4 separate regions of the Homo sapiens genome follow, and all the other regions are linked to region 3. The links come from fine-mapping of genetic effects on gene expression. A gene starts in region 3. Each other region holds a variant in brackets. All regions are shown on one strand. Distances are between the middles of the regions. Region 1 holds the start of LOC124901085 (a long non-coding RNA gene). Region 2 overlaps CXXC5 (CXXC finger protein 5). Region 3 holds the start of CXXC5 (CXXC finger protein 5). Region 4 has its middle 83 kb from the start of CTNNA1.

The links.
Region 1: its variant is fine-mapped to the expression of CXXC5 in whole blood (TOPMed, PIP above 0.99).
Region 2: its variant is fine-mapped to the expression of CXXC5 in whole blood (TOPMed, PIP 0.95).
Region 4: its variant is fine-mapped to the expression of CXXC5 in macrophages (Nedelec 2016, PIP 0.95).

What each region holds. Positions count from the first base shown.
Region 1 is chr5:139,705,847-139,710,988 of GRCh38, reverse strand. LOC124901085 (a long non-coding RNA gene) reads right to left here and starts at 1,087. Exons shown (of 2, transcript XR_007058963.1): 1 at 1,015-1,087. RefSeq lists silencers at 85-184, 905-1,274 and enhancers at 465-514, 759-1,749. The variant A/G (reference allele first, on the strand shown) is at 2,749.
Region 2 is chr5:139,673,998-139,679,139 of GRCh38, reverse strand. All of the region lies in intron 1 of CXXC5 (CXXC finger protein 5), which reads right to left. Among named protein-coding and RNA genes, the nearest start is that of CXXC5-AS1, 27 kb to the right of the region's middle. RefSeq lists enhancers at 1-366, 4,377-4,930. The variant G/AGG (reference allele first, on the strand shown) is at 3,124.
Region 3 is chr5:139,646,201-139,651,342 of GRCh38, reverse strand. It overlaps CXXC5 (CXXC finger protein 5), which reads right to left and starts at 2,994. Exons shown (of 3, transcript NM_016463.9): 1 at 2,498-2,994. CXXC5-AS1 (CXXC5 antisense RNA 1) reads left to right here and starts at 1,615. Exons shown (of 2, transcript NR_149086.1): 1 at 1,615-2,008; 2 at 2,162-2,344. RefSeq lists an enhancer at 274-774 and silencers at 1,567-1,736, 1,937-3,066.
Region 4 is chr5:138,668,249-138,673,390 of GRCh38, reverse strand. No RefSeq gene overlaps it. Among named protein-coding and RNA genes, the nearest start is that of CTNNA1, 83 kb to the left of the region's middle. RefSeq lists a silencer at 4,598-4,647. The variant G/AAG (reference allele first, on the strand shown) is at 2,030.

The DNA of each region.
Region 1 (5,142 bases), 60 kb before region 3:
GTAGAAAACGGGTTTGAAATTCCTCCTCCTTTTTTTTTTTTTTTTTTATTTATAGTGCACGGTCTCCATGGCAACCGCGGAGGAGGTCACGGTAGCTGGGCCCCCGCGCGTCACCCCGCGCCTCGCCGGCTGCAGGCGCCGGGATTGCGGCCTCCCAGGCGCCGCGGCCCGCGTGGACTCAGCTCCGAGTTCTCCGCCCCCGCTCCGCCCTGCTCGCGGCTCAGGCCCCAGCCATATGACTCTGCCAGGTCCCAACCGCGAATGGCGCACCTGGGCACCAGTGCGCTAGGCTATACCTCTGTCCCCGGGCTCTAACACGCGGGACTGCACCACGAAACACGTGCCCAACCCCAAGACAAGAACACGTGCGGCAAGACGCCGCCAAGGGGCTCTCTGCATTCGTGGATGCCCTGGGTAATCGACCTATATTGGCGCACAACTGCAGAGCTCTTGCTAAGACGCGACCACCCGAGGCTAACAACGCTGGCTTTGGAGTCAGAGCCCAGCCCCGCCTCGATAACTTACTAGCTGTGTGACTTCGGCCAAGTCACCACCTCTCTGCGCCTCAGCTTCCTCATCAGCAAAATGGAATTGTTGTGAGGCCTAATTGATACAAAATACGTTCAACGCCTATCATGGTGTTTGGCACGTGGTTCTGAAAATCTGTGGTTGGAGTTATTTCTTCTTGGCTGTGAAAGCCAAGGCCCTAAAGACTTTGAATAGGGGCGCGCGCTTAGCCCGGAGGCTAGGAGTTCCGCCTCGGGAGCTCCCCAGCACCTCAGCCTAGGCGCACAGGCGGCTAGTGGGAGGCGCGTGCGGGCTGCTTAGGGACTGGGCCAGCCTGGGGCGCGGCGGGCGGGGTTGCAGTCTCCAGAGCTCGCCACGTCCGCACCCGGAACCCTGGAAACGGGGCTCCCAGAGGCTCCCCCGCTACCATCCCCCCGCCCCCCCACGCCCGTCCCAGCACCATTAGCAACAGGCCTGCCCGCCCGCCCTCCTAGGCTGAGGCCGCACCTGACCCACCGGATGGCGGCTTCTGGGCTGAGCCGTGCCCCCCAGCGTGCACACTTCCTCCCGGACCCCCAGCGCCCCGTCGAGTGCACAGAGGGAGGGGATCGGGCCGCCCCCGCCCCGCCAGCTTCCCACAGCCAGAGCTGCCCGGAGCCGGGGAGGCAGGAAGTCTCAGAGCCGGGGCGTGGAGGCGGGGTGGGGGCAGGAAGTTGGGGGTGACTCTCCCAGAGACCCCAGACAGGGCCCCGGCGTGGGAGCGGGGTGGGCGGGCACGTAGGGATTAAGGGCGCCCCCCTCCTCTGTAGCCTTAGGCCATGTGACCCCGGCTGGAACACCCTGCAGGGTGAGGGCGAAGGCCGCTACCTCTGGCGACCCCCAGCAGCGCGCACAGGGAGGGAGGGGCCGCCTTTGTCTACTTTGCCGCAGAGGCAGCCCCCCACAACCCCTCCCCTCAGCGCCCCGCCGGGCCCTGCACAGCCCGGGTTTTCCATCCGGCCCGGCTCGGCTCGGCAGCTGTCAGGGGACCGAGCTGACCTTCGCGAGCAGGGAGTTTCAATTAGCCGCAGATCAGATAAGCGGGCGGGCCAGTCTCTCCGGGCACCGCGGGGGCGCAGCCCCGCCCCCGCCACGCCGCGCCAAACGCGCTCCAGATGGGAACAAAGATGAGGACGCAGCTCCACCTGCCTCCCCGGGGAGGGGAAGAGGAGGCCCCGCCGGGAGGACCTTCCCACCAGGGGAAGAGGTCGCGCGCCCTACCCTGCCCTGCCCGTCTGGGATTCCAGGGTCATGGGTCTGGCCAAGATGATCTTTGCGGTTCTGCTTGCCTCCTGCACTGAGGAGAGGTGCCTGCTGCACTGACCTCATCCCCGGGCGGGCGCCGTGCCCTCCCTCTCCCGGAGGGAGCGTTTTGCCATCTCTGATCTCATCCAGAGCCTCCCTGGGAGGCTGAGAGAAGGCAGAGCCCAACAGAAAAAGGAAGCTGAGGCTGGGACTTCTTGATCCAGGTCACACCAACTACATATTGTTCAGATGTTTACTGAGTGCCTACTACGTGCTAGGCACTATTTAGACCATGGGAACACGAGAGCACAGTCTTGTCCCCAGCCTCCCAGAACTTGCGTTCTAGTCACGTTCAAGTAAACAAATAGTTGACCATGATCACTTCAGAGAGCATGAGGAGCCATGAGGACATTAAAGTAGGTCATGTGAGACTGACTTCAGGGAGGGGTCCATATGAGCTATTGTCGTCAGGGGAGGCCTCTGAGGAGAAGACATCTGAGCTGGAGCCTGAAAGACCAGGAAAAGCCAGCCAAGCAAAGGAGAGGGGGCAGAGCATGCCAGGCAGAGGGCACAGCAGGCACAGAGGCTCCAAGGCTGCAAAGGCTCCAAGGCTGCAAAGAACGTGCCTCTTGAAGGTGAGGGGAAGGCCTTTGTAAGCCCAAAGGGTATGCCTATAGGGCTGGGCTTTGCAGGCCCCCTGAGGGGCCAGGGTTTATGCAAAGTGCCATGGCAGCCTTCAGTGGGTTTTAAGCTGGGAGATCTGACTTAAACTTTTTAAAGATCCCCCTGGCCACCCTGTAGACCAGTGGAAAGGATCAAGCAGGGAGACCTGGGAGGAGGGGCTGGGGGTTGGGATAGCGAGGGAAAGATGGTGGTGGAGAGGTTGCTGGCTTAGAGATATTTTGGCAGATGAATTGGATGTGTGGGTGAGGTAGAGTGATAGAAGTTTGCTGAAAC[A/G]GGCCGGATTTGAACCTAGGTCGGTCTTTGGGAGCATGGAGGCCCAGCTTAAGAGGTTAAGGATAAAGCTATGGAGCAAGAAGCCAGGGTTGAAATGCCAGTAGTGATATTTACTAGCTGAGTGACCTTGGGTAAACATTTAGATCAATTTCCTCAAGCATTTGAAAAGAAAAGGATGGGATCATAATCCAGATTGTCATTGTGAGGTTTGAGTATGATGTAAGGTGGAAGTGTTTAGCATTGAGCCTGGGAGGAGTAGGTGCTCTATAGATGTTGGCTGTTATTGTGGGGGTTGTTGCTACTCCACCCACCCCCACACACCTGCCTCTTAGTACCAGAACAGTCCTCAACACACAGCCTGGCCTTTCCACCCGACCTCTGGCTTTGTTTTCATTTGCTAAGGGTAGAAGCTCCTCCTCCCATCAACCACTGCTCCCCTCACACACCTTTGTTTGGAAGGCTGTTTGAGGGGGTGGAGGTCACTGGGAAGAGACCGACCCAGTCCTTGTTCACTAAACCGTCTGCTGGGATCCTCCTCATCTCAGGACCCTAACTCTCCATCCTCTGGTTACAGTAAGAGTTGCTCAAAGGTCTCAAGGTGAGCCCTCCCCCACTGCCTGCCTGAAGAGTTGAGACCATTCAGTTATCACGCATTCAATCAGTTGAGTGACCCTCCAGGGCCCAGGGTAGTGGTGGGGACAGACAAAAGCAAATGCAGGCCCTGCCCTCGGGCAGAGGCCTAGACTCTTTCCTGAATTGCAGTTAGTTATGGCATTTTAGGCTCTAGGAGCTGAAGGAGCTGAGCAGGGCAGGTAGAGGGGTCGGGGTGGAGGCCTAAATTACAACTCCCATTTATGGAAACTTTACCCAGGGCCAGGCACTTTGCTCTGGTCCGTGAATGTCACACATACATGTCATCGAGTCCTTACAACCACCCCATCCACCCCATGAGATTGGTACAATTTTTTGTTTTTGTTTTTCCGAAAGAGTCTCGCGCTGTCACCCAGGCTGCAGTGCAGTGGCGTGATCTCGACTCACTGCAACCTCCACCTCCCAGGTTCAAGTGATTCTCCTGCCTCAGCCTCCCAAGTAGCTGGGATTACAGGCATGCACCACCATGCCTGGGTAATTTTTGTATTTTTAGTAGAGAGGGGTTTCACTATGTTGGCCAGGCTGGTCTTGAACTCCTGACCTCATGATCCGCCCGCCTTAGCCTCCCAAAGTGCTGGGATTACAGGCTACAGGCATGAGCCACCGCGCCCAGCTGGTTTTTCTTGTTTGTTTGTTTATTTGTTTGTTTTTGAGATGGAGTTTTGCTCTTGTTGCCCAGACTGGAGTGCAATGGCGTGATTTCAGCTCACTGCAACCTCCGCCTCCCAGGTTCAAGCGATTCTCCTGCCTCAGTCTTCCGAGTAGCTGGGATTACAGGCTCCTGCCACCATACCCGGCTAATTTTTTTGTATTTTTAGTGGACATGGGGTTTCATCATGTTGGCCAGGCTGGTCTTGAACTCCTGACCTCAGGTGATCCATCTGCCTCAGCCTCCCAAAGTGCTGGAATTGCAGGCATGAGCCACTGCACCCAGCACAATCATTGTTCTTAATGTATGAGTAAACAAACAGAAACTTCCAGAGGTGATGTGCCTTGCCCAAGATCTGCCATTAAGTGGTAGGGCTGGAAATCAAACCCAGGCCTGGCTGAAGCCAGAACAGGAGAATTTAGCCATTCTGCTATCTGGCCTCATATGTCATTTAATGGACAAATGCTTCTTAAAGGCCTTCAACCGACATCCTGTAGAGATGGATCTGCCCCTTCTGCCCTTGACTTCCCTGTGTGCCTGAATTTTCAAGGACAGAGGCTGAATCAAGCCCAGCCGGGTTCTAGGTACACAGTAGGTATACTTCAGTGTGGCAACCTCTTGACAAAGCAGTGATGATACCTGCCCTCACCTCCACACCTCCCCTTGGGTTCTGGGCCCCCCTTTCAGCCCATTTCAGAGAACCTCAGAGCTGTGGACTAGAAAAAGAAAGTTCTACTTTGCATAATATTTGCATCTGCTTTGCATGCTGTTCACCTAACATCAAAATGTACAGAGGCCTTGGCGCTGGCACCCTATTCCCCCTCTTGGGCTCCTAAGCCCACCCACCTGCCGACCCAGACCAGGGGGTAGGGTTCTTGGGGGACCCATTTAGGCTCCACATAAGCTTGTCTACTTCCAGTGTGCTGGTGAGGGAGATGGGAAGGCTCCTGCCCTCATCTCTGCCCCTCCCTCCCCTCCATCCCTTCCTGGGGGAAGTGTGGTGGGTCAGGGCAGGAAACCTAGGCAGCACGCACACACACATGCAGAGCAGTGCGGCAGGAACTACCCCCGATCTGGGAGCCTGCCTGGGAGCC
Region 2 (5,142 bases), 28 kb before region 3:
CTCTGGCTGGGGCAGGCTGGCACTGAGGAGTAGGCGTGACCCTCAAGGGAATGGAGCCCAGCAGGAGCCTGTCCTCTGGCCACCTCCATATTTCCAAGGCAGCCCATCCCGGGGCAGGGCCTGCTCTACTCAGGTTTCAAGGCTAAGGCGTCTGAGCTGCCTCCTCAGCTGAAGGGACTGGGCCAGATGGAGCAAGGCGGCGGTTTCCTCATCAGTCCCGGCTCTCCAGCCTTGCTTCCCTGTCTGCCTGCTGTGGCCTAGCATGCCCCAAGAGAGGGGTGGGAGGACAGGGCCCAGCCCCAGAGCAGCTGGAGGCTCAAGGGGGAGGCGCACATCTGGCGGGCCCCATCACGCCCTGGGCTTGAGGGCAGCACACACTGGATCTTTGTCCCCAGGCAACCCCAAAACCCCCCTAGTCACAGGACTCAAGCCTGTCCCAAGAGAGCATCTAGTCCAACCCTCTGCATTTACAGAGGGGGAAACTGAGGCCCCAAGCGGGGGGGAGGGGGGGCTTCCCCAGGACTAAGGAGTGGCCAAAGAGGACCGGGTGTGGGGAAAGGAAAAGCTCTGTCTCTAGGGTGAGGCGAGTAGCCGCCATCAACAGTCAGATACTCCCTGTCCCTCCCCAGTGGGCACCAGACCACCTAGGGCTCCTTCCTAGCAGAGGGAAATGGGTGAGGAGGAAGAGCTGGGCAAGATGGCAGATTCCACCAGGACAGAGCCGGGGGGCCCTGGCAGGGAATCCAGGCTGGGTTGGGGGGCATCAGAGGTCAGAGCTGAAGCAAGAAGACCATGTGTGTCCAAGGATAGCTGTGTTCCCTCCCACCTCATAACGGCCAAGACCAGGATGGTCTTTTCAGCCCCTCTCCTCAGAGACTGGTGACCCTTTCAGGAATCAGTGACCCTGGCTAGTTGTTGGGGACCAGGGTCAGTGAGATCAGGGACAAAAACCGTCAAGTCAGCTCATCCAGCTCCTGCCCAACTAAGCTCATCTGCCCTGCCCTGGACGACAACCCCGGCAGCCCAGATACTGGGTGAGGGGAGAAGGCAGAAGGCAGGTGTCTTGTGGGCTGCAGAGATGGGGAGGGGAGCAGGCTGCGCCCCAGCCCCTGTGTGCGTCCCCCGCCTCTGCGGCCTGCTGGCTGGTGGCAGAAATCGATAGCTGCATTAACGCTGTTCCTGCTCTGCTCACCCCCTCCCTCCTCCCAGCTCCAGGATCTGGCTCTGCGTGCGGGGCGGGCAGGTCAATTAGAAGTCAGCTCCTTCCAACACAGCCGGCCTGCGCTCAGGGCTGGCGCTCTGGCTGAGTGTCTCGGCTTTTGTCTCCGTCCTGAGTCTCTCCTGGTGGGGACCAAACCTCATGTTCTGTTCCTCTCTTGGAATTTCTCTGATCTTCCACTATTCTATCCTTCTTCAGGGCCCACCCACCCCCAGCCTCTGAGGTCCTGGGACATACTGAGCTTGGGACCAGAGGATGTGATATGTCACCAAACAGGTGCTGCAGGCAGAACACTATGGTTTTTCAGCCACAGAAGTTGAAGGGAGGTGGGTACACGGAGGGACTGGCTCACAGGGACAACTCTGTTTTCAAATCCAGAGTAGACAGACATGAACATCTGGTCCTCAAGCTTGTTCCAAATCGGCCCTGATACCTGGCTCATCTTCTCCTTCAGACCTTAGGAAAAACTGATGTCCTGGTCCCAGTGGACCCCTGACCAAAAGCCCCATTTGCCCTACTCATGGAAGAGGAGGACATAGAGGGGACGTTCTCCCAGGTCCCAGTCTTCTACTCTAGGGCACACAGCCATCCCCTTCCAGGCCAGGAAGGGCCTGGCAGTGCCCAGGCAGCAGGGGAGGAGTCAGGGCTGCGTTGAAGCGGAGCGGGAATGAGCGGGAGGGAAAGCTGGCGGGCAGGCGGGCGGCGGCGGGCGCATCCATCATCGGCCCTGCCAGGAACACATCCAGCCCCCAAAAAGAAATACTGCGCCTGAGGAGGGACAACAAAGGGCTCCGTTTCATCAGCAATGCGGAGCCAGCGCCCCGCCGCCCCGCCAGCCGCGGTCAGCCCACAAAGGACCCCTTTGTCCATGCAGGAGCCGGCCAGCCGGGAGCTGGGACCAGGGGCTGACGGGCGGGGACAGAGCACGGGGGGCTGAGGGGGGACGAGTCATGGAAAGCTGGGGGGCAGAGGGGCATGCGGGGGCAGAATAGAGACAGGTGGTGGGGACAGAATCATGAGACAGAGAACTAGAGGGGAGGATCAGAGAAAAGGGGAGCTGGAGAGGAAGGGGCAGAGGGTCAAGGTTAGTGGAGACAGTGTCATGGGAAGCAGTGTCTGGGGTAACAGGGTTCAGAGACCCAGGGACCCAGGACACCTTGTCCAGGCTCAGGGACTTGAGGGTCTAAAAGACAAGGAAACAGCCCTAAGGAGGGAATCCCAGAAGGCAGCTGGGCATGCCCACAGGAGAGGGAGGCAGAGGGAAGGGTAGAGGAGAAGTGGCGAGGAGACCAGATCAGACCCACTGTGTAGCCCAAGGCCTGAGAAGAGGAGGTGGGGAGGAGATGGGGAGGAGTCTGGGGAGGAGGGCTGGGGACGAGGGTGGGGAGGACACTGGGGAGAAGGACTGAGGAGGAGATGGGGAGGAGCCTGGGGAGGAGGGCTTGGGGGGAGGTGGGGAGGAGGCTGGGGAGGAGGTGGGGAGGAGGCTGGAGAGGAGATGGGGAGGAATCTGCGGAGGAGGCCTGGGGAGGAGGGTGGGGAGGAGTCTGGGGAGGAGGGCTGGGGAGGAGGGTGGGGAGAAGGACTGGGGAGGAGGTGGGGAGGAGGGCTTGGGGGGAGGAGGCTGGGGAGGAGGGTGGGGAGGAGGGTGGCAAGAAGGACTGTGGAGGAGGTGGGGAGGAGGGTGGCAAGAAGGACTGTGGAGGAGGTGGGGAGGAGGGCTTGGGGGGAGGTGGGGAGAAGACAGGGGAGGAGGACTTGGGAGGAGGTGGGGAGGAGGCTGGGGAGGAGGACTGGGGAGTACCGAGGAGGAGGTGGGGGGTAATGGGTTCTTGGCCCCAGAGCATGGCTGCAGGGCCCAATGCCTCCTGTAGGCTCCAGCTAACTGGCTGAGCTGGAAGGAG[G/AGG]GAGACTCATACCTGGGGCCACCTTCCTGGCAGTGGAGGCCACCCCGTGCCTCTACCCTAAGGCTCTGGCCAGCCCCAGAAGGCACGGAGCCTGCCCCCTTCTAGCCAGCCCCCACCACCTGTGTTGCCACTCTGGTTTCCTTAACCAACGGATCCTATCAACCAGCATTTACTGAGTATCTACTGTGTCCCAGGCCCTGTGCTTTTATGCTTTACATGTCTTAGCTTCTGAATGCCTCCCCAGAACCCCGGGAGACAGAAACTATTTGCCAATTTCAGACATGAGGAAATTTAGGCTCAGAGAGGTTCAAGCTGTCAGCCTCAGGTCAAACAGCTGGTGCCTAGCAGGGGTAGAGCTTGAACCCAGAGCCCAAGTGTTAGTCACCCTGTTCTGTGGCCACTTTTGCAATTGACAGAGTGGCCCAAGGCAGGTGACCTAGGTACCCCTAAGGCTGCTCTCACTCCCCAGGATTGTTACCGTGCCTGTCACCTCTCCGTGGTTGGGGGCAAGCTGTCACAGACCCCAGGAGAGTGCCCCCACCTGGGGCACTTGGAGATGCCCAGGGCCTGGAATGCTAAGCCAGTGACATCATAATGCCAGCTGGCAGTGAGGTCACTGGAGGTGGTGGCAGTGCCCTTATTCAACCCTCAGCCCTAGAAGAGCCTCACTTCACCCCCCGCAGGGTTCAATCTTGAACTCTCGGGCCAGAAAGCACTGGGAAGGAGGGGACATCCTGGGATGACATAGTGCCATCTGCACACAGACATGTACACAGGTGGCCCACAGCTGGATGTTCTAGATATTCCTTTGCACACATCTTCCCTGCACCTACCTCGACAGCAGCCCTGTACCTTATGATACCGGAGAGACAGCAGAGCACACAGACCCAGACCCCAGCACTGCCTTCCAGGAGTGCACAGGAGCTGGGCCCACAGTCACATGAACCAGCGTGAAACAAGAGCCGGAAGGGGACACAATGAGCTATCTGAGGCCTTCCTGGAGGAAGGGACTGCTAGTTTGAGAGTTAAGGATAAGGAGAAGCAATGAGAGGGGACAAAGGCATGAAAGAGAGCCTAAGCAGGTGGGGAAGAAGATGTGAGGTGTGTCTATGAGGCTGTCAGGGTCCCAGTTGTGCAGGGCCTTGAGGCCAAGGGCAGAATTTTTATTATTATTATTATTTTAATTTTTAGTAGGGATGAGGTCTTCCTATGAGGATCAAGCAATCCTCTCACCTGGGCCTCCCAAAATGCTGGGATTATAGGCGTGAGCCACTGCGCCTGGCTGGCAGGATTTTTAAAAAACAGTTTTATCGAGGTATAGTTTACATACTATAAAATTCTGCCACATTAAAGTATACATATAATTTAATGATTTTTAGTAAATCAACAAAGTTGTGCAACCATCACCACTACCAAGGGCAGGGTTTGACCAAGGCACCATCCCCGCCATTCCTTGCTGGCTGACCAGCCTTGCAGCCATTCTGCCTGCCCAGGGAGGCTCGTGGAAGAGGCTGCGTTTCAGGACCCCCAACACTGGCCCAGCAGAGCTGCACACCCTGGCTCAATGCACCACTTTCCACGCTTCCATGCAGCACTTGACATCCCGGCCCTTGTCTCCTCCCCCCCACCTTGGTGGGCCGGTCTCCTTGGCCTGCCTCCAAGTGAGGCAAAATACGCAGACAGGCTGATGGTGGGCAAAGCAGACCACAGGCTATGGTGGTTGAACCAAGCTGGGCAATGGGGTGGAAGGGAGGGTGTCCCGTCTCTGATTTCCATGATTCAGCCTGGGGAGTTTCCAGAGGGAAAAAGAAGCCCTGCTCAAGCCCAGGGAGACTGGTCTTGGAGGCAGGGAGAAACGCAGCCCCAGGCGGAGAGCACAGGGCACACATCCAGCTATGGATGGACACACATACCCCCACACACTGGCCACTGCGAGCACCCAGAGGGTGGCCTGGGGTGAGACATGGCCTCAACCCCACTAGAGTCACCCCAAGACTGACTGCCAAGGACAGAACAAGG
Region 3 (5,142 bases):
AAAGACGAGGCCACTGGCCCTCGGGTAAGTCAACAGGCTCTGTCGCGGGAGAGATAGGAGGCCCTGGCCAGGGTCACCTGCTGAGCGGGGAAAACGGCCAGGACCAGATACACACATAAATAAGGCACCAACCCGACAGCCAGCCAGCCAAGGGTCTGTCTTCTGCAGAGGCTCACCTTGGAAAGGGAGGTGGCATGGAGAGGGAGGCCAAGGCTGACTAGGGGCGTCCCTGGGAGAGACCCAGCTACTGCGAGGATGAGGGGTAGGGGGGTTCTACCCAAGTTCCGGGGGCTGGCTGGGAACTCGGAGGCCAATCTCCTTCAGCTGTTCCCATCTCTTCCCAGGGCAAAAATCAAACCATCACCCCCTCTCCCTCCTCCCCAAGGAGAGGACAATTTCCGTTCTGGGAGGGGGGTGACAGCTGCAGAGCGGGCCACTCCCCACCCCCCCAAGCTCCAGCCTGACTCTCATCTAGGGAAACTGCTAAATCAACAATACGCAGTTACGGGTAGGTAGCCCGCCGGCCTGAGTTTCCCCGCACGGCTCTCAGAAAGGGGTTTAGAGGGGGCTTCGGTCTCAGTTCCCGGTTTTCTAGTGGCGGTTGGAAACCAAGGCACGGGCATCTTTCAGGAGGGGGATCAGGTGAAGCTTAGGCCAGTAGGTCCCCCAAGACGTCTAATTTAAATACTCCCAACTGCAAAGGACAGACGCCCCCCACCCCGCGGCCTGGGGCAGCTGAGGTGGAGCCGGGCGTTCAAATCGCGCTCCAAACAAGTCCGCAGCGACCGCGCTCGCAGCCCCCGCCAGGCGGCCCCAGCGGAAAACTTGAAAGGGACTCTGTTTGCCGGCGGCCCTGGGGCGGCTCCGGCGGGGGCGAGGGCCGAGCGATCTCACACACGCCCCCTCCCCAACGCTTCCAAAGAAAATGCGGGGGTGGGGGGGACAGGGCCCACCACAAATCCAAGGGCTCCAAACAGCGCCCGCCGCGCGAGGAAAGGTGGGGGTCAGGAGTCTGGTCCGCTGGTCACCCCCTTAGCTCCCCCCCCATCCGAAGGCGCGACTCTCAGACCACCCAAAGTCCAGGGGGCAAAGGAGGGCGCGGTTGCCAAACCTTCAGACCCCCGTCGCGGGAGACTTCAGGGAGCGGGTCTTTCCGAATGAGTCACTACAGAACCCCCCAAATTTACTGGTGCTTCCTTGCAGCCCGAGGCACCAGCCCAACTCCGCGCACCCCTTCAGATTCCCGGGGGGGAAAAAAGAACAAAAAGAGATCTTGCTCCCACTTTGGGCGTTTCAGCTCTTCTGACAGGTCCCGAAGGTGGCCCCCCATTTAAAAACCGGGGTCACTCGCTTTCCGTCGATCCTACAAATAAACAAAGCCAGGCGCACCCCGCGCTCCCCGCCGGAAAGCAGCCCATTCCGGGCGAGGACAACTTCCCCCAGCCAGAAAATTAACACATTCCTCTCGCGGCGGTTCAGCCCCTCACTCCGCTCCGGGGAAGCGAAGGGGAGGGGGGTCGGGCCGAACTTCATGGGTAAATTTGGGGCCAGTGCAGCGTGGCAGGCGCCGGGGACGTACGCCCCCCACAGTTCCGCAGCTAGAGGAACACCCCCATTCTCCCTCCCAGGCTCTGCACGCTGCGTGGCCCACGCGGGGCTCGGGAGACAGCTCAAAAGACTCCCCAAGGCTGGGAAAGGAGGGAGGGAGGGGCCGCGGGGCACCGTGGTGGTGGGGGAGATACTTTGATGGAAAAAAAAGGTCAAACTTCATCAGCCCGCCGGGCACCCCGCGGGCAGCGGGGGCGAGGAGCCGGAGGAAAAATGCAGAAGTAGCCGCCGCTTCTTCCAAGTGGTGGGGGAGGCTCAGCCACGCGTGGTCGAGGGCGCCCAGAGCAGTTAACGTCGCCCCTCAACACAGGGCTGCGAGCGGGGTCTGATGGGGGGAGTGCGCGCCAGAGATCTACAAGCAGCCGCCCCCGCAGGCTGAGCGCCCGCCCAACGCCAAGAGGTGAGGACCCCGGGCGCCCGCTGCCCCAGCGCCCGCGAACTGGAGTAGTGGGGGGGAGGGGGGCGGCACCCCGCAAGGAGCGTCCCAGCCCCACTCCACGGCGCCCAAGCCGCCGTCCCAGACCCTAAAACCCCTCTTTTTGTCTGAACTCAGTGATCTGCGACCGAGCATACTGCGGCTTAGGGAGGCTTGGGTATAGCAGCGGCCACCAAGCGATCACCGGCGCTAGGTCTCCCAGGCTCCGGGGCTCCGCGGCTTACGGTGCGGGCGCCCCCCGCCCCTCCCAAATACGGACCCCTCCTTCCCCGTCCCCGGCTCTCCGCACCTGAACTTCGGGGGAACCCGCGCAGCCAAACTTTCCGCCGACTTGCAGCGAACTCCGGCCCCGGCCGCGCACCGAACCCCGGGGGAGGAGAGGGAGGTAGGCGGGGAAGGGGAGGGGGCCGGCCTCCGGGGGGGGTCGAGGGAGGGCCGTGGCCCGACACCTACCGGCTCTCCGAGTCGTCCAAGCCGCCACCGCCGCCGTCGCCGCGAGGCCGAGGGGGAGGGGCGGGGCAGGGAGCTGCGCTCCGCTCTGGGCACCACCGCCGCGGTGCGCTCCGCTCCAGCCGCCAGCAGTGCCCGGGTCCGGAGCCCGAGTCGCGCCGCCGCGGCTGGCCCGAGGCGGGGAGGGGGGGGAGCCTGCAGCACCTGCCCCTCCTCCCCCTCCCCGCGGCCCAAATTAAAAAACAACAAAAAGCAACTAATCACCCCCGAGCTGAGCGCGGCTCGCGGGCGGAGGGCTCAGCGTGCGGCGCCCGGACTCAGCAGGCGGCGCGCATGGCTGGGCGCGGGCTGGGCAGGGCTGGGACGCGGGGCCCGGCTTCAGGGGATAAGGCTCTGCCGCTCTTCTCGCTCGGCTCGGGCGTCTGCTCTTGCCGCCAGTGCCGCCTCTGCTGCCGCCGCCTCTACATCCCCGCTCAGGCTCAGCCGCCTCTGCCGCCGCCGCCGCGCGCCCGCCCGGGCAGGAGCTATGAACGCTGCCCGGGGGCTGCCGGCAAAACCCGGACCGGACTCGCCGCTCCCTCCTCCCCCCAACCCCCTCCACCTCGGCTCCCCTCCCTCCTCCCGCCGCCTCCCTCCCAGCGCAGCTCGGGCCACTTGGACGCCGCGGGCTCTGAGGCCGGAGCTGCAGCCGCTGCGCCTCGAGCTCCCCGCGCCCTGACGCGGTCCACCCAGGCTCAGCTCCCTTGCGCGCCCCGTCTTCGCCTATTTCCCGCAACTTTACAAAAAAAAAAAAAAAAGGACGACCTCCCCGCTTTGGTGAGGCGGTCTGGGTTTAGAGACGCACCTCCGGGGAAATCTGCTATCTTTCTGCCCCCTCTAGAGCGGGGCCAGAAGCTTCGAGGACCGGGAGGGAGAATTTGGCCGCGCCCCCCAGCTCAGGTGCGCGGCGGGCCAGAGATTCCTAGTCGAGGGTCCTGGGAGGTAGACGCGTGTTCCAAGACCCCACCCTTCCAAGAGCTCCTTAATGGATTCAGTGGGCACTAGGGCCCCGGGAGAAAAGGGGCGGAGATTCCCGTTCCCATTTCTCAGGTGAGGAAACTGATCCGAGAAAGGATATTTTATCTCTCAGGCAGGCATCAGCCTCAACTCTTGAGTCCCGGGGCTAAAACGACTACGTACATTTGGTGCCCTGAGACCATGGCCTACGCACTCAAAACCCGAAACAATGCTTGGAACAGCAGCGCTCAATAGGTACTGATTGAAAGACAGAAGGAAAACTCAGCCTTGCCAGAGTAGGCGCCCAGTGGGGACAGAGTTGGGCCCGCATATCCCGCTTTCACTCCATCAGTGGCCTCCATATGCCCATCTTAGGCTAATTAATCCTGCTGCTGCAGATGTCTTCACCTCACGTACCCATGGTGCAAGCCCCGGGCTCATATAATCCCAACTGCATATAATCCCAAAGTGGAAGTTTTCTCCAATTCTTTGGGATTCGTGGGGGCGGATTTGTGCAAGGCCGACCTTCCTCTGCGAGGCGAAGAAAACGCAGTCCCCAGACCCAAGCAGGGGAGGGAGAGGGGGAGGGCGGTTGGGGAAGTCAGCCTAGGGTTAAACGTTACAGCCTGAGATCGATTGGGGCCCAGATAACAGGGAGTTAACTGTGGCGATCCGGGCGCCTGCAGCCACAGGCGCGGCCTCGGTGGGAGAAGCGAAACTGTCTCCCACCTCGCTGCTTCCTCTCCTCTGCTCTGCGCAGCCTGGCTGTCTCCGAGGCTGGCGCGAGGGCTTATGGAGCATGGATCTCCTGGCAGCAGCAGCTGGTGCCCACCTTCCACGCCTTCTATATGTGGCCTTGGGGCCTTGACCCAGCCGGGGTGGGGTGGGGGGAGGTGTCAAAGGGCAGAGCTCATCTGGAATGTGTTGCCTCTCTGCCACTCCTGATATCCAAGACCACACGAAGTGACCCCTCCCCAGACATCGTGGACACCTGCTCCCAACCAGTTCCTTCCGAATGCTGAGAAGTGGTCTCCCTTAACTACTATGCCAAGAAATGGCTCCCTTGGGGAGGCGTTTAGTCTCTCTCCTCCTTGCCAGCAGTCCTTTTAATGCCCCCCTCCAAACAAACATCCCATGTGAGTAAAAGTAAGGTGCTTGCTATGGAAACCGTTTTAAGACGCCCATCACCCCCAGAAGATCACTTCCAAACTGCTTAAAGATAGGTATGCTGGGCCTCAGTGTGAATGTCAGGCACTGTGTTGGGCACTGACCGTGCAAGGAAAAAGGAAGCAAAAGCCCAGGTGTAGGATCTCCAAGCATTTAACTCACCTCCATCTACCTTTTCTGGGGAAGCTGAGGCACAGACTGTGAGGGAGGACCTGCTCCCTGGGAGTCAGCAGCAGGTCTCAGAGGGTTAGGATCCATGAAGTCAAACTCTATTCCACAGATCTCCTGAAGCCTAACGCCAGTACAGAGTCAGGTCATGCACGCCCCACAAAAAGCTTTATGCTGGGGTCCATGGCAGAGGGTGGGTAGTAATTCTACTTTAGGGAACTGCTGACTATTACCCACTTTTTTTTCAGACTTATGCCTCCACCCCCACCCCCAACTCAGGCGGGAGGCCAGGGATCCACAGGCTGCAATGGAGGAAG
Region 4 (5,142 bases), 980 kb after region 3:
GTTTTTCATTTAAGCCTCCAAAAGGAAACGTATAACCTTAAATGCACGTCTTAGAAAAGAAAAAAGATTGAAAATTAATGAGCTAAGAATTTATCTTAATAAATTAGAAAAAAAGACACAGCAAATAAACTCAAAGTAGAGGGAAGGAAATGACAAAGTGGAGAACAGAAATTGAAGAAACAGAAAACTAACATGCAGCAGAGAGGATCAGCTAAGCTAGCCACAAGCCAATTGTGTGAAAATTGATAAATCCCTGGTGATAATGATGAAGAAAAAGTTGAAAGAAGGCAAAAATATTCAAAGTCAGGAATGAAAAGAAAGGTATTGCTATGGATGTTACAGGCATTAAAAATAAAATAAGAGGATATTGTGAATAATTTTGTGCCAATAAAACTGAAGGGTATATTCGAAATAGACAAATTGGTTGAATACATAACTTAGCAAAACTGACTCACCTTGACACAGGAATCAGGATAATCCTATAACCATTAAGGAAATGAAATCAGAAGTCAAACATGCTCCAGGAAGAAAATCTCAGGCTTCACTGGCAAGTTCTAATCTTTTTTTTTTTTTTTTTTTTGAGATAGGGTCTCCCTCTGTCACCCAGGCTGGAGTGCAGCGGCGCGATCGTGGCTCATGACAACGTCCACCTCCCAGGCTCAGCCTTCCAAGTAGCTGGGACTACAGGCACGCCCCACCATGCCTGACTAATATTTGTATTTTTTGAAGAGATGGGGTTTCGCCATGTTGCCCAGGCTGGTCTCGAACTCCTGAGCTCAAGTGATCTGCCCGCCTTGGCCTCCCAAAGTGCCGGGATTACAGGCGTGAGCCACTGTGCCTGGCCAAGTTCTAATTCTTAAAACACCCCAGGAGAGTGTTATAATTCCCATCTTCAGATGAGGAAACGGGCTCCAAGAAATCAAGCAACCTGCCTAAGGGCTCAGAGCTAGTAAATGTCAAAGCCAAGATTTTTTTTTTTTTTTTTGACAGGGTCTGGCTCTGTCACCTAGGCTGGAGTACAGTGGCATCATCTTGGCTCACTGCAACCTCCACTTCCAAGGCTCAAGTGATCCTCCCACCTCAGCCTCCCAAGTACCACAGGCACACACCACCGTGCCCAGCTAATTTTTTGTATTTTTTGTAGAGATGGGGTTTCACCATGTTGGCCAGGCTGGTCTCAAAACTCCTGAGCTCAAGAGATCAGCTTGCCTCAGCCTCCCAAAGTGCTGGGATTACAGGGGTGAGACATCACGTCCGTCCTGAAGTCAAGATTTGAACCCTGGTTGACTTGGCTCCAAAGCCAGAAAGTTCAGCCATTATACTCCTCAGCCTCTCCTTCAAATGCTATAGCCAGTAGCATAGATGTGAGGTGAAGGACAAGGCTGTGGTCCAGAAGCCCTAGAGACAAGTATCTGATATGTCCACTCAGAGAAGAAGGAACCTGGAGATCCCCAGGACCCCACTCTGCCATCCTTCAAGACCTATTCAAATGCTACCAGTGCTTCTCTGCAGAGCACCATAAACCCTGCCCAGAGACCCCATAGCTGTCCTAGGCCCCCTCACCTTTAAATGCCTCTGTCTCTGGGCCTTTTCTATATATTGTCTGCTGTGTATCATTCTCACCAAAGTTTTCCAACCTTGGAAATGCATGGCTCCCTGAGAATACAGGTCTTGGTTTGAGAAAGCTGCACTGAAAAGTTAAATGCTAGGCTGGGCATGGTGGCTTACACCTGTAATCCCAGCACTTTGGGAGGCTGATGAGGGAGGATTGCTTGAGCCCAGGAGTTCGAGACCAGCCTGTGAAACACAGAGAGACACTGTCTCTAAAAAAAAAAAAAAAAAAAAAAAAAAATTTTTTTAAAAGAAAATAGAGGGGCATGGTGATGCACCTATAGTCCCAGCTACTCAGGAGGCTGAGGTGGGAGAATCATTTGAGCCCAGGAGTTAGAGGCTGCAGTGAGCTATGATCATACCACTGCACTCCAGCCTGGGAGACCCTGTCTCCAAAAAAAAAAAAAAAAAAAAAAAA[G/AAG]TTAAATGCTGGCACTGTAGCAGATCACTGGGGCTCTGAAAACTGTAAGGCAACTACCAAACTACCATAGTCTTCTAGGCCAGGGGTCTCTAACCACTAGGCTGCGGACCGGTACCAGTCCCTGGCCTGTTAGGAACTGGGCTGCACAGCAGGAGGTGAGTGGTGGGCAAGTAAGCATTACAGCCTGAGCTCTGCCTCCTGTCAGGTCACAGTGGCATTCGATTCTTCTTTCTCCTTTTTTTTTTTTTTTTTTTTTTTTTTGAGATGGAGTTTTGCTCTGCTGACCAGGCTGGGGTGCAGTGGCATGCAATCTCGGCTCACTGCAACCTCCACCTCCCAGGTTCAAGCAACTCTCCTGCCTCAGCCTCCCAAGTAGCTGGGATTATAGGCACCCGCCACCACAACCAGCTAATTTTTTGTATTTTTAGCAGAGAGGGGGTTTCACCATGTTGGTCAGACTGGTCTTGAACTCCTGACCTTGTGATCCACCCACCTCGGCCTCCCAAAGTGCTGGGATTACAGGCGTGAGCCACGCTCCAACCGGCCTTAGAGTCTCATAGGAGCGCGAACCCTATCGTGAACTGCACAGGCGAGGGGTCTAGGTTGTGCGCTCCTTATGAGAATCTAATGCCTGAGTACAGTTTCATCCTAAAACCTCCCTCCGTCTGTGGAAAAATTGTCTTCCACGAAACCAGTCCCTGATGCCAAAAAAGTTGGGGACCGCTGTTCTAGACCACCCAAAATATGTTCTTGCTAAAAGTTATTTTAAGATTTTCACTAAAATAAAAACTAAAATTTAAATATTCTCATGGTAAAATTTGTGGTCCCCGAAGATAGATTTTATAACAAGCATGAACTGCTCCACAACATAACGTAGCATTTCATTCTCTCTTGAAATCAAAATTAAATCCAGTTTAAGTTTTGTGGAATGCTAGATTTTGCTTCCATCTCTTCACCCCCTCCTGGGTAATAGGGTTATCTATCCACATTCTTTACCCAGTAACTGTGAGCAGGGTGGATTTCTCCATACCTTGCCTCGGCTCAGCCATGTGACTTGCCATGAGCAGCAGTATTTTAGCAGATGTGACATGAGCAGAGGTTTAAAATGGGCGTGCACACTGGGACTGTTGCTGGGGTACTTCTGCCATCTCCATGAATGTCCCCTGGCTGGCCTGCTGGTCATGAAAGGAGGATGAGGGACACATAGAGTGGTGCCAACCCATGCCAGCCAAAGCTGGCCTATAGCAATGAACCCCAGCTGGTCCCCAAACACATGCACTAAATAAACACTGTTGTATGCTGCTGAAATTTTGTGATTGTTCTACCGCACTCATTACTGGGACTATGGTTAACTGATACAAGCCCCTTCTTACCAAGATTACCATGTCCTTCAGTACTGGCCATCGGCTGTGGCCAGTTGCCACAGCTAATATGTATGCCCGGCCTGGTTGTGAAGCACATCTGCAGGTGGGGGCTGCAGCCCCACCTCCTCTGTGACAAGTTCAGTCATGGTGTCCTTTGAGAACAAAGGCTCCCAAAACTATAGCCCTTTGTGCTCAGCCCTCATAGGCATACATGGCCCTCAGTGAAATCTGATCGCCTGGGTTTGATTCTTGGATCCATAACCTTAGGAAGTTCACTTAATCTTTCTTTGCCTTATCTGTCAAATGGAAACAATGATAGTACCTACTTCACAGGGTTCTTGTGAGAAATAAGTGAATACGTACAACATGCTTAACACAGTGCCTCCTGGCGCACAGTAAGTATGCACTAAATGCTGTCTATTATTATTATCACACATGTGGTCACCCAAATATTCTTCCTCCTAGGTCCTCCCATCTCAGAGGATGCATCCTCATGAGTGCAGGTTTCTGCCATCGATGGAATTCATACCTTCATTCCCTTTCTGATCTTGAGAGTTCCAACTAACCCTCCTGAGTTGAGACCATCCCACTTTAATCTGGGAAGCATTAAGCCTCCAATCCTAATCTTTGTTTAAAACGTCTGTTTGGAAGTTGTCTTCTGGGTATCCTGCTGCTTGCAGCTTCTCTTTTCTACTCTGAACTACACCAATCCTCATGGGGGTCAAGAAAGTCCACACTTCAAGGACATGAAGCCTGGTTCTCTCCTGCCCCTCGCCCCAGGGATGAAATGCCTTTCATTCTTTTTAGGTGAGCCTGCAGCTGAGAAAAACTAGACATGGTTATTTCCTCAATAGGTCATTCTGCTACAATTAATTCTCAATAAATCTTCACCATGAGACTGAATTCCTCGGCTATGTTTTATTCAGTGTGTACCTCCAGCACTTAGGGCAGAACCCACACTTAGTAGGTGCTTGATAAATGTGTAAATGAATGAATGAAGAATATGAATCACAGGGTGGGAACAATTTTCAAACTATGGGTGGAGAAATCAACATGATCATTCACTGTGTGCCCAGCCTCCTGCTTGACACTGAGGTCCAAGCAAGAAAAGTAACAAGGCACTTGGAGCTTGTAGTCAAGTCCTCAAAGACTAAAGTCTACAAAGGAAACAGAGCTCAACCACACAAATCACTTGCTCTGCCCATCCCACATCAGAGGGAACCCAGTGAAGTGTTGGTTCAGAAGAGGCAGGATGTGGCCTAAGGTCTGAAGGCACGGGAGGGGCCGGGGCAGAGGGCACGGGGGGCCCAGCTTACCCTGAGATAAGGTGTCCCAGAACACCACGAGCAAGGGCACAGCACAGGAATGAGATGGCTATTTGTGGAAAATAACCATGACACCAGCCTGAGCCATTTGTAGCACTTGTGATAGGGAGTCATGGGGGTAAACTTAGCTATTTCAGGCTGTGGGCTCAGTGTTGAGACCTGGAGGTTAGGCTGGGAGTGGATCCTGGCAAAACTGGCCACAAAGACTGGCCTGAGGCGAGGTGTGACAGCACCCACTAGCAGCAGGGCTCTCTTTCCTCTCATTCCAGGACCAGGTGAGATTTGAACCCCTGCCAGAGACTCCAAATATGAGCCCACCACAGGGGCATATCCCTCTGCTCCTCTAAGAAGGTGAAATTTGTATGGGTGAGGAGGCTTTGGTTTCCAGCAACAGAAAAACTCTAGCTAACTTAAGCAAAAAATG